Linked DNA regions of Homo sapiens: region 1 is linked to region 2. The links come from fine-mapping of genetic effects on gene expression. Tissue or cell type: T cells. Region 2 holds a variant in brackets; the other region holds the start of a gene. All regions are shown on one strand. Distances are between the middles of the regions. Region 1 holds the start of C1QB (complement C1q B chain). Region 2 overlaps EPHA8 (EPH receptor A8).

Region 1 (5,515 bases), 70 kb before region 2:
TCAAGCTGAACTTTCTCAGCAGAGTGTGAGGAAATGACATCTCTGCCAAGGGCTCTTCCATCCATAGTTTGCACCGTTTCAGTGATGGGCAGCTCATTACCTCTCGAGGCAGCCCATTCCACCTTTGCCCAGATCCAAATGTTTTTTCTTCATTCGAAGCTTGGGTCAAAGCCTTCTTCCTCCAGGAAACCTTTCCTCAGAGGCTGAACTGTATCCTCTCTTAAAATGGGGGAGCAGAGTGGTCTCTGCCTACTTCCCAGAGTGGCCACAGGGACCCAGGTGAGACCATGGATGGGAAAGAGTCATAAAGCCTTGAGCCCCAAGCTCTCATTGGGACTTGTGGCTGCTACTGCTATTGCTGCTGTTCTCTGATCCTCTCAACACCCTGGGGAAGTGGGTTGTGATTAATTTCCCATCTTGCAGATGAGGAAACTGAGGATCGGAACTTAGAAAGCAACCTACCCAAAAATCACCCAGCAAACTATTCTAACAGCAGGGTTGTGGCCAAACTCCTACCCTCTCTGCCACATGCTGGCTGTCCCAACCCCAGAGTCTGGCATGTGGAGGGCTCCCTGGGACCAGACAAGGCCTACTGATATTTGGCTCCTATGCTCTGCAAACCAGCCTCAGCCCCTCAGCCTAGTCCTGATCAATTTCTTGCTGAAAGCCCTGAGTTATGCCAGACACTGTGCACCAAGGAAAGGAAGCTGTAAAGATGAGTGTGGCCAGGGAATGCTGGTGACAGCTTTAGGTTCTGTCAGGCTCTATGCTCTGAAGACAGGGTGGCTCAGGGGCATGGTCCTGCTTATCCATGAATAAGCATCAGCTCTCACTCTTGCTCTTGCTAAAGGTTTTACAAAATGGCAATTTAACAACTTTAATAAGTTGGGTACGTATAGGCCAGGCTCTGAGCCAGATGGCTTGCATGCCATTATCCCCTGTAATTTGATATTCAGCCCCTGAGAATGCACTCTTGCTTTCTTATTTTACAGATGAGGCAACGGGATCAGAGAGGGCAAGCACCTTGATAAAAGTCACACAGCTCCTGTGTGGCTGGGAGTCAAACCCACATCCACTGGATCTTAAAACTCAATGTTATGTTAAGAGGCCACTGTACCTGGTGGTAAAAACATAAACTTTGAAGCCAGACAGCCTGATAAAAGGACTAATGCATGGGACACACCAAGGGTAGTGGTAGGCACATGGTCAGTGTTCGGTGAAAGTGGCTTTTTACCACCACGATGATTGCTGCTCTTGTTAGGCAGCACACATTCACCTGGTGGCGGGAGCCTGTAGTGTCACAAGGAAAGCAACACTCAGCGTTCACATAAGGTCTCTACTGCTTCTTAGCTAAGGGACTTGGGAAATCACTCCTTCTCTCTGGCCACAGTTTACCCTCCTATAAAGTGGGGATAATGCTACTCTCTCCCTCATAGGGTATGTGCGAGGACATGAGTTACAGCTTCCAACAGAGCCTGGCATGTTGGAAATTCTTAATGAATATTAGCTATTTTATTATTATCACTGTCATCCAAGAATTCCTGAGTGGTTGAACAGAAGGGAAGATGGTTGGAGAAGTAAAAAAAGACAATCCCTTTGAAAGACTGTGTTTAGAGGGAGGGGCTCTGTCAGTTGGAGGCAGCAAGGGGTGGAGAGCTGTGACCAGTTGGTGGGGAGAGAGGGTGGGGAGCAGGGTACTGACAGGACTTGGGCTTCCTGGGGAAGCCAGGGGCAGGGGGAGTGGGAAAGTGCTGGTTCTAGCCCATTTCAAAAGCCACCGAGTTTCAGCCTTGGGTTAGGGCTTACAACTCATCTGGTTTAACTGCCTCCTGCCTGTGCCAGCCCATCATCATTGCCAGCGCGGTTTCTCCTGTCCTCCCCCCAGGCTCTGACCTTTCCATCTCCTTCGGTCCAGCAGTCCCTTTCCGCAACATGGAGTCAGGCCCACTTGACTTTAAAGCCCCATCTGCTACCGGCTGCATAACCTCAGGCAAGTGCCTTAACCTCTCTGAGCCTCTTGGCAATGCTGATTTCAACCTGACAGGGCTGCCAGAAGGATGACAGGAGAAGGCGCTTAGAAGAAATAAGGTCCCCCCTGCCCCGTGCAGTGCCACATCCCACTCCCCAGCTGCACAAACATTGCGCTCACTCAGTACTAGCTGAGAACTCATCGTAACTCTACCTGCACATCCCCTTATTTCTTTGGAAGAGTCAAGCTGAGCTTTCTCAGCGAGTATGAGGAAATAAGCAAGGTGTTGGGGAAATGCTGGGCCGGGCAGGAGCGACTGGCTTATAATCCCACTCCTGCCTCTGGTTTACTGATAAATTTTGAGCCAGGGCATGCACTAAGCTTTTGCAAGCTTGATCTCCTGTAAGGCACAGCAGTGCTGAAAGATTCTGTTCTCTGTAGGGGGGCCGGGCTGAGAGAGGTTAGGTGACTTGCCCAAGATAACCAATACATAAGGTGCAGAGCCAGACTCAGCTCAAGTCTCTGCGATGCCAAAGCTCCTATGTGCCAGGCTCCCGCTTTAGGTGGCCTGCCCATCCGCTAGGCCCTGGGTAGCAGCAGACTCCCCAACTCACCCCAGAGATCTGGGTCCCATAGGTCTGGGATTGGGCCCAGCTACCTGCACTGTTAAACAGCCTAACTGGCTCCGAGGCAGGTGACGCAAAGCTCACACTTACGGAATCACCACTTTCTGCCATATTGGCCCTGCCAGCCTCCCCCAGGCGCCAAGCCCCGTCCTCACCTGGGAAGCTGGTGTCCTGTGAGGCCACTGGGCTGAGCAGCAGTGGGACCAGGAGCCGAGAGCCTACTGCCCTCGGTCCGAAGCGGAAGTTCCCTTCCCCAGAGGCGGGAAGGGCTTTCCCCTGACGGTCCCCTCCCATGGACCAGCAGGCTGGCCCCTTTCCCGTCCCCTCACTGTCCCCCCACCCTGCTGCCCTCAGGCAGTTTCAGGTCCTATTTCTGCAACCCACTGGATTTACTGTAAATGAGACGGGTGGGTGGCAAGTTTGGTTCTGCCAACTCAGCAGCTGTGGGGAGAACACGCTGTCCTGGGGGAACATCCACAGCTCACCCTCCCAGGCTCTCTGACCTCGTGATCTTCTTCTACACTGGGCAGGGGTGTTCCTCAGTGAGCATCATGTGGCGGGCCCGCTGCCTGAGTGCTGGCTTACAGTCAGAGCCTTTGATTCCAATCCCGCCTCTGCCACTTGCCAGTTGATGTGTTGTCAGTCAAGGGAGCCCCAATTTTCTCTGCTATAGGATGGGACCATAATTGTACCTGCTCTACAGATACAGATCTCACAGGCCACTGGGAGGATAATGGAGGAAATGATGGGGGAGGAAGTGTCTGGGGGTAAACTGTAAAGGGCTGTGCACGTGTTCATTGTTAATATCACTTCATGTCCCAGGCTTCCCCTTTCTGGGCTCATCTCTTCTGCTTCCTTCCCATTCTGTGCCCCTGCTCTTTCCCTGTTCTCAGAAAATAATCTCATAATGAATTTTAAATGTGTTCATTATTTATTGATACCCCTCCCTCTGCTTCCAGCAGGGCTGGACGCTGATGACAATAATAGGCCCAGGCAGGGGCCTGTTGCTTCTTCTCGATCCTGGAATCACGCCAAGTTAGGGCCGGAGAGGGGCTGAGGTTACTCGGCCCATCCTCCTCATTTTATATACGAGGAAACTGAGGCCCAGAGGGGAGACCCACCATTTAACAAATATTTAGTGTTTGCTTCCATGTGCACTGAAGAGAGAGCTCTTAGCAAATCAGCCATGGTCCCTGCCCCCATGGGGCCTCCCTTCTACGGGGGGAGACTGGTGTTAAACACGGAATGACATGAGGCTTCATTGCTTCTGTGATAAATGTCACAGAAAGACGTGACTGCTGGGGCCGATGCCTCATGGAGGTGGCAGATGCAGACCTGGAAGCCGGCATCCCTGGCACTAGGATATCAGTCTCTCCCTGTGGCTGCGTCTCAGACGACATGATGACTAGCAAGCACCAGGAGCTGGAGGCCCTCTTGACATCTGTGCTTGGAGATGGAAATTCACTGGGCTTGTGGATGCAGCTTGGTGGAAATTAAGTGTTAACTGCAATGGGTGAACAGGAGGGAAAGATAAGTTTGATAAAACCAAAAGGTCTCTGAGCTCAGTCAACTATAGTCCCGAAGGGACCCAGGCTAGGGTGAAGAGAAGAAACACTGGATTCCACAAAGGGAGAAACGAGTTAGTAGGTTGCAAGTTGAGGGCTTCTGAGCATTCCCAAAGCCGAGTGGCTCTGGGCCTCTAGTTCTTTTTTTTTTTTTTTTTCTTGAGATGGAGTCTCAGTCTGTTGCTCAGGCTGGAGTGCAGTGGTGCGACCTCAGCTCACTAGAACCTCTTCCTCCCAAGTTCAAGCGATTCTCCTGCCTCAGCCTCCCAGGTAGCTGGGACTACAGGTGCATGCCACCAAGCCCAGCTAATTTTTGTATTTTTTTTTAGTAGATACAGGGTTTCACCATGTTGGCCAGGCCGGTCTCAAACTCCTGACCTCAAGTTGATCTGCCTGCCTCGGCCTCCCAAAGTGCTGGGATTACAGGCGTGAGCCACCATGCCCAGCCTCTGGGCCTCTAATTCTTAGGTGGCTAAGGGCAATGGGAAAAGATGGATGTCAATTTGGGGTAGAAGCAGTGAGGCTAAGAACAGGAAGCAGCAGAGGTGGGTTAGGAGCACGGACTTTGGCAGTTTGAATCCCAGCTCTTCGTCTTGCTAACTATGTGGCCACGGGAATGTTTACTGGCCTCAGTTTCCTCGTGTAGAAATGGGAAGCATGAACGCCTATCTCCTGGGGCTGTTTTGGGGGCCAGCGAGGTCCCCCTGCCATGTCCAGGGCCAGGTGAGTGCCCAGCCCTTGGTGGGCACCCACTGCAAACATGGGAACGGTATTACTTATATGAAGAGAAGATGGAATTCTTGGAACCCAGGAGCAAAGAAGCCATGCCTGGATTAGGAGGAGGCCTGGACTTGGGGATCAGGAGCTGAGGGGTCCCTGGGCCTTGACCGCTAATGGGAGCCAGCTGGTCTCTGTACCTACAAAATTTTGGACTCACATCCCTGATTGAGAGTGGAAAATCCCTGATCCCTGCAAAGAGTGGAAAAAGAAACCTACACCCCCTCACCTTCCTGTGGTTGGAAAGGGGTTCCTTGCAGCTTGGGGTGTCTTGTCCTGGCTCCTGCCCCACGTCCACCCCTCCTTGCCTGCCCCACTGAAAAACTCTCCCCCGCCTCCCCTCAGCAAGGCAGACACGTTGGCATTTTCAAAGGCTTGCCCCCCTGATGAAGAGAGAACAACAAGGAAACAATTATGGAAAATAAAAATGGCACAAAATTGTCATTTCCAAAGTACAGGTTTCTGATATGACACTGTGACCTACATAAATGGTGTATTGATTTTTTAAACAAAAGAGAAATGAGAAGAAAGACATATCACCCACAGCTTCGCCCGGCCGACAGCTAAGGGGTTGGTGG
Region 2 (5,000 bases):
CCCTGCCTCCCCCCACCCAGCTGCCTGCGTGATCATGCATTCAGTCAACCACTGTTCATGAGCACAACTCTGGACCAGGCCTGTTTGGGCCTTGGAGGGCTGTGAACCAGAGCCACTGGCTCTCAGCTGGGATCACTGCTAGGAGGGAGGGAGAGAACAAGGGGGCTAAGGTGATGGAAGGGTAAATGGTGGGAGGAGCTACTTCCCAGAGGAGGAGATGATATTTGAGTTGTGGCCTAAAGAATAAGGAGTCCACTGTGCAGGGAGGGGGATACCCTAGGTTGAGGGAGTCTCCAAAATGCACATCTCACTCAGTCACTGCCTGTTTCATGCCTCACAGGCTCCCCAGGGCTTAGACAATGAAACCTGGTGTTCAAATCCCTCCCTGCCCAGCCAAAACCCACTTGGAGCCTTGTTTAGTGCTGCCCCTCACCCCCATCCTTAGGCCAAACTAAAGCACTGGCCGATCCCCACACCCAGCAGTCTGATTCCTGCCTCGGGGCCTTTGCACAGGCTGTGCCCGCTTCCTGGGCTGCCTTTTCTCCTCTGTCCACCTACTGAGCTCCTCTTTTAAGATTAATTTTGACTGTCCCTTCTGGAACTCTAGACACACGCGTGCGCACACACACACACACACACACACAGAGAAACGACCATTCCCCGCCCTGCTCCTGCGGCCCCTGCTTGGCCTCACCACCTGCAACACTATGGCTGTACTCGCTTGTCAGTGCTGACTCTCCTTCTAGACTGGGAGGCCCCCGTGGGCAGATCCTTGCAAACAGAGTACGACTCCCTTATTCATCTCAATGTCCCAGAACCTGGTCCAGTGCTAGCCCTGGGCAGATGCTGTTAAACTCCAGGCAGGAGTTTTCAAATTGAATGGATCCCACCATTATCTGCTCTGGGCAGAGACCCCAGAGGTTCAGGTGGGCCAAATGCCACCCAGCCAGGCAGCTCCCGGCTCCGTCCATGGAACTGAAGTCCTTTGCAACAGGGACCACTGGGAAGCTCACTGTGGTTCTCTCTCCACTAAATCCTGTTCTGGAAAACTCAGTGCCTGAGAGAACCTTCAATTACAAAGACATCAGGCCACTGCAGAGCATTTCTTCTCTGGATGTTGATCGTATCTCTTTATTACAAAAGCTAAAACCAGGTTCATTTGTAAAATTCTACAAACTTGAGAGAAAACCTGGAGTCAGGAGAAATGGTAACGCCCTGAAGTTGCTTCATACTCTAGAAGGCTGCAGAGCCAGAAAGAGCTTGTAAGTTGCAGAGTGGGGGAAAATACGCACCATTGTTGCAACATCTTTCCCTCCCCTCCAGAGGATCCCAAGAGGGCTCTGGTCTGCCTGGGGGCTGAGCTCAGGTCTAGGAGCTCGGAGTCGTGAGGAGTCTTGACTGACACACTGTGATCTCGCCTCCTCTTCCCAGAAGCCCCCCGGGAGGCTCAGTCCTGGGGCACAGCCTTGGGCACAGGCTCCTTCTGAGCCCCGGGGGCCGCTGGGGGTGGCATCATCAGAAAAGGGCTTTGCATTTTGTCAGCAAATATTTGTTGAACCTGTTACTGAGCTGAATGACAGTAATCCTCACTGTAATGATCCAATCCACAACGATTAGCATCTCAGAGACCATTTGCTTCTTCCCTCCCTCATTTATTCCTTTCCCCAACATTTACTGAGCTTCTACTATGGACCCAAGAGAAGTAAGAGCTGGGCCTGCTCTTAGGGAGCTTCCACGGCATTGGCAGACGGACAGGCAAAGCCTCATGGCGTGATGCGGGGCCTGAGGGAAGCCAGCACCACGGCTGGCCCTGCAAGTCTCTGACCCTTTCCAGGGCCCACCTGGTCCTTGTCAGGCCCGAGCAGAAGCTCGGGTGTAGCACCTGGGTTCCTGTCCTCGTCTAACCCCCTTTATCTGAGCTCAGTGACATTAGGCAAGGTGCTGGAAGTCAGTTTCCTCGTCTTTAAGGTGGAGATCATAATTCTACCC[A/G]CCTTAGAGGGAGATGGCAAGCATGACATGAGTGAAGACACATAAATTCATGCCAGGGCAGTGCCTGGCACTTGTTGTTATAACAATTTGATGTAGTTGGAATTCTTACAATTGTTCGACAGAAGAGGAAACAGAGGCTCAGGGAGCCTGAATGCCTTGCCCCAGGTTCCCAGCAGAGCCAGAATGTGCAGTCAGGCGGGGGAGCCTCTGGAGCTATGGCCTTTCCCCCCGTCCTCCCAGCACCGTCCCAGAGCTGAGAGATGGCTGCGCCGCTGTGGCTCACCAGTCGGCAGTTCTCACACACTCGGCTAATACCCATATGGCTATAATGTGTCAAGGCCAGATTAATCCACGCAATGAAAATAAAATAATCTTTAATAAGAATACTAATCACCAGGCCTCAGGGAGCCCAGAGACCTGGAGGCTGGGCCGGGAATTAATGGCTGAGACAGATGGAGTGGCTCTGGGCTGGGGCCCGGCCCTGCCTGTCGACCCAGGGTGCTTCCGGAGCCTGCACGTGCCCGGGTGTTGGGCCGCGAGCCAGGAGGGGCTCCTGACCCTGCTGAGGGCACCTTGCCCAGGCCGCCTGTCAGGCCAGCAGCTGCCTGTGGCCCTGGCCACCTCTCTGCTCTCCCCCGCAAAGAGCCGGAGATTTGACAAATAAGGTGTCCGCTGGTGGACAACCAAAGGAAATTAATTCTAAATCAGATTTTAAACACAGTCAGGAAGGCAAAAGAGCTCACTGTTCCTGCTCCCCCTCCGAAATGAGACTCTCTGATATTTATAGAAAGATGATTAGGGCCGCGAAGGGTGATTTATATTCTGCGTCCAGGTGACAGGAAGGACAGCAACCAGGACTTCAGACTCTGAGCTGCTGCTCCGCTGGGTGATGCGCTGAGAGGCCCTTCCTCTTTCTGGGGTGAACCAGGGTGCGGGGGGTGCTGGGAAGTGCAGTCTGGTGTGGGGAGGTCACTGGATCCGGAGTTGTGGAGTGTGGGGAGCTTCCTCTGGGCAAGGAGTTGGGAGATGTGAGATTCTATCAACCACCCCTCGCTGTGTGCCCTTGGGCTAGTCACTTCACTTCTCTGGGCCTCCAATTCCCCAGTGGTAAACTGGACGAACCCCACATGGCTCTGACATTTTTCCATGGGTCTCTTGAGGTCTGAGTGCAATCTAAGCAAGGCCTCTAAAGAGCCATGTGACCTGGCGGGTCCCTTATCCCAGGCTATACTGTCTTCTGCAAAATCAAGTACTGCCTGGCCACCTTCTGAGGGTACCTCTAAGGGCAAAACCCAAGGCAGGGAGGGCAGCTGTTGAAGGGGGCCTGGCCCCTGCTGTGGGTCTCAGGCTCTCAACCCCTGCTCCTGTCACTAGAAGGACAAGGGCTCAGGACTGGGCAAGCTGAGACCCCCTGACTCCACGCCCTTCCTCTCCTTAACTGTTTGCTGAGAGAACTGCCCAGAAGGGATCAGGATGTTCTCAAACCAGGCAGGGGCCCCATGGACCTCAGCAGGTCTCCTGAAGACTCCCTCAGGCTGGGCAGGGGCAGTCCCAGATTGCAGAAGACATCTCAAGTATCCCAGGAAAGGTACCCCACTCTGTTCCCAGCCCTTCCTTTGCCCCAGGCCATCCACCAAGGAGCCGGGCAGCTCCAAAGAGGTCAAGGGCTTCTCCAGGGGTAGAAAGGGGGACCAGGCAGGGCTCTTGGACCTGGCTCCCATTTGTGAAAGGCCTTAGTTTGAGACCCGTGCTGACCTTCCCAAATGAGGTTACGCAGCCAAAGAAGCCACCAACGGGGCTGAGAAATGTCTTTCCTTGTGCGACTTAAAACGGGCTTTCCGTTCCCAAATCTCACTGCCTGCAGTGCACTATGAATTAATATTTTTTATAAAACCTGTAATTATCTTGCAACTGGCATAATTACGTTGTATTATTATTTAAATGTAAAATTCAAAATATGCTGCAATTCCCTAACCCCACTTTGGCATTTCTTTTTATTTGTTATTAATGTGGCAGCAGTGCCAGGAAATAGGAGTGGCCTTGGCCTCTCCCAGCCCCCGTGAGGTCCTGCCACTCAGGCCCTGGGGTTTCCACTCAGAGCCCCACCCCTGATGTGCTGAGAAAATTGGGCAAGACATATCCCCTCTCTGGGCTCCGCTTCCCTCTTCTGCCACACAGGGAGACTGCAGCGTTACCTGAGACCTCCAAGCGAGGTCTTGACCCCAAAGACAGGAGGGCAGGTCTTCTTCCTACAGACAGATGTGGTTCAGTTCACCTGGGACAAATAATTGGCATATTTGTACTCGCTGGCTAAATCCAGACTTGGGGACGGTGGCCGACCCTGAGTGCGTATGCACCGGCCAACCAGCCAGATTGTTATGACTTATGCTGTACCAGTTGCTAACCATCCATCCGAATGCTACCCCAGGGAGGAGGGAAGTGGGGCTTTGCAGAGGGCTTTGTGCACAGAGGAAGCAATTGAAGGTGCTGGAGTCAGGCAACCTGGGATCAGATCACTACTCTGCTACTTAAGTTGAGGGACCTCAGTTTTTCTTATCAGTAAAATGGGACTATAATACTTATCTTAAAGGACTGTTGTAAGGATAAGAAATTGCTAAGTCCCCAGAGGCAGGGACTCCCTGTACCTGTATCCCCAATGCCGGGACACAGTAGATGCTCAGCAGAATGGATAATTATTACATCAAAGACGAAAAATCATCACTAAGGTCCTTCATTAGCCCCACCTGAATGAGGGGAGGTTTGGCGCAGCTCTGGCGGACAAAGCAGCCTGGGGCAGGCTAGGGAGACGCTAAAAGCCTGTACCTGGCTCAGAGCAATACAGACCTGTCTTCAGGCTCCAGCTCTCACTAGCTGTAAGGCCTAAGCAGGTAACACTACCTCTTACACCTCAGCTTCCCCATCTGTAAAATGGAATTGTGATACCTGCCTTGCTGCAATGAGCAAATGAGCTGGTATGTGATGCGCCCCGCTATGAGCTGTGAAGGCAATAG

Evidence for each region. PIP is the estimated chance that this variant, and not a neighbour inherited with it, causes the effect. A credible set is the group of variants that fine-mapping cannot tell apart.
Region 1: it holds the start of C1QB, and the variant in region 2 is the best candidate, but not a certain one, in a credible set for the expression of C1QB in T cells (TOPMed, PIP 0.77).

Annotation. Positions count from the first base shown.
Region 1 is chr1:22,650,539-22,656,053 of GRCh38, reverse strand. C1QB (complement C1q B chain) reads right to left here and starts at 2,818. Exons shown (of 3, transcript NM_001378156.1): 1 at 2,751-2,818.
Region 2 is chr1:22,580,672-22,585,671 of GRCh38, reverse strand. The region is part of intron 3 of EPHA8 (EPH receptor A8); the gene reads right to left. Among named protein-coding and RNA genes, the nearest start is that of EPHA8, 20 kb to the right of the region's middle. The variant A/G (reference allele first, on the strand shown) is at 1,990.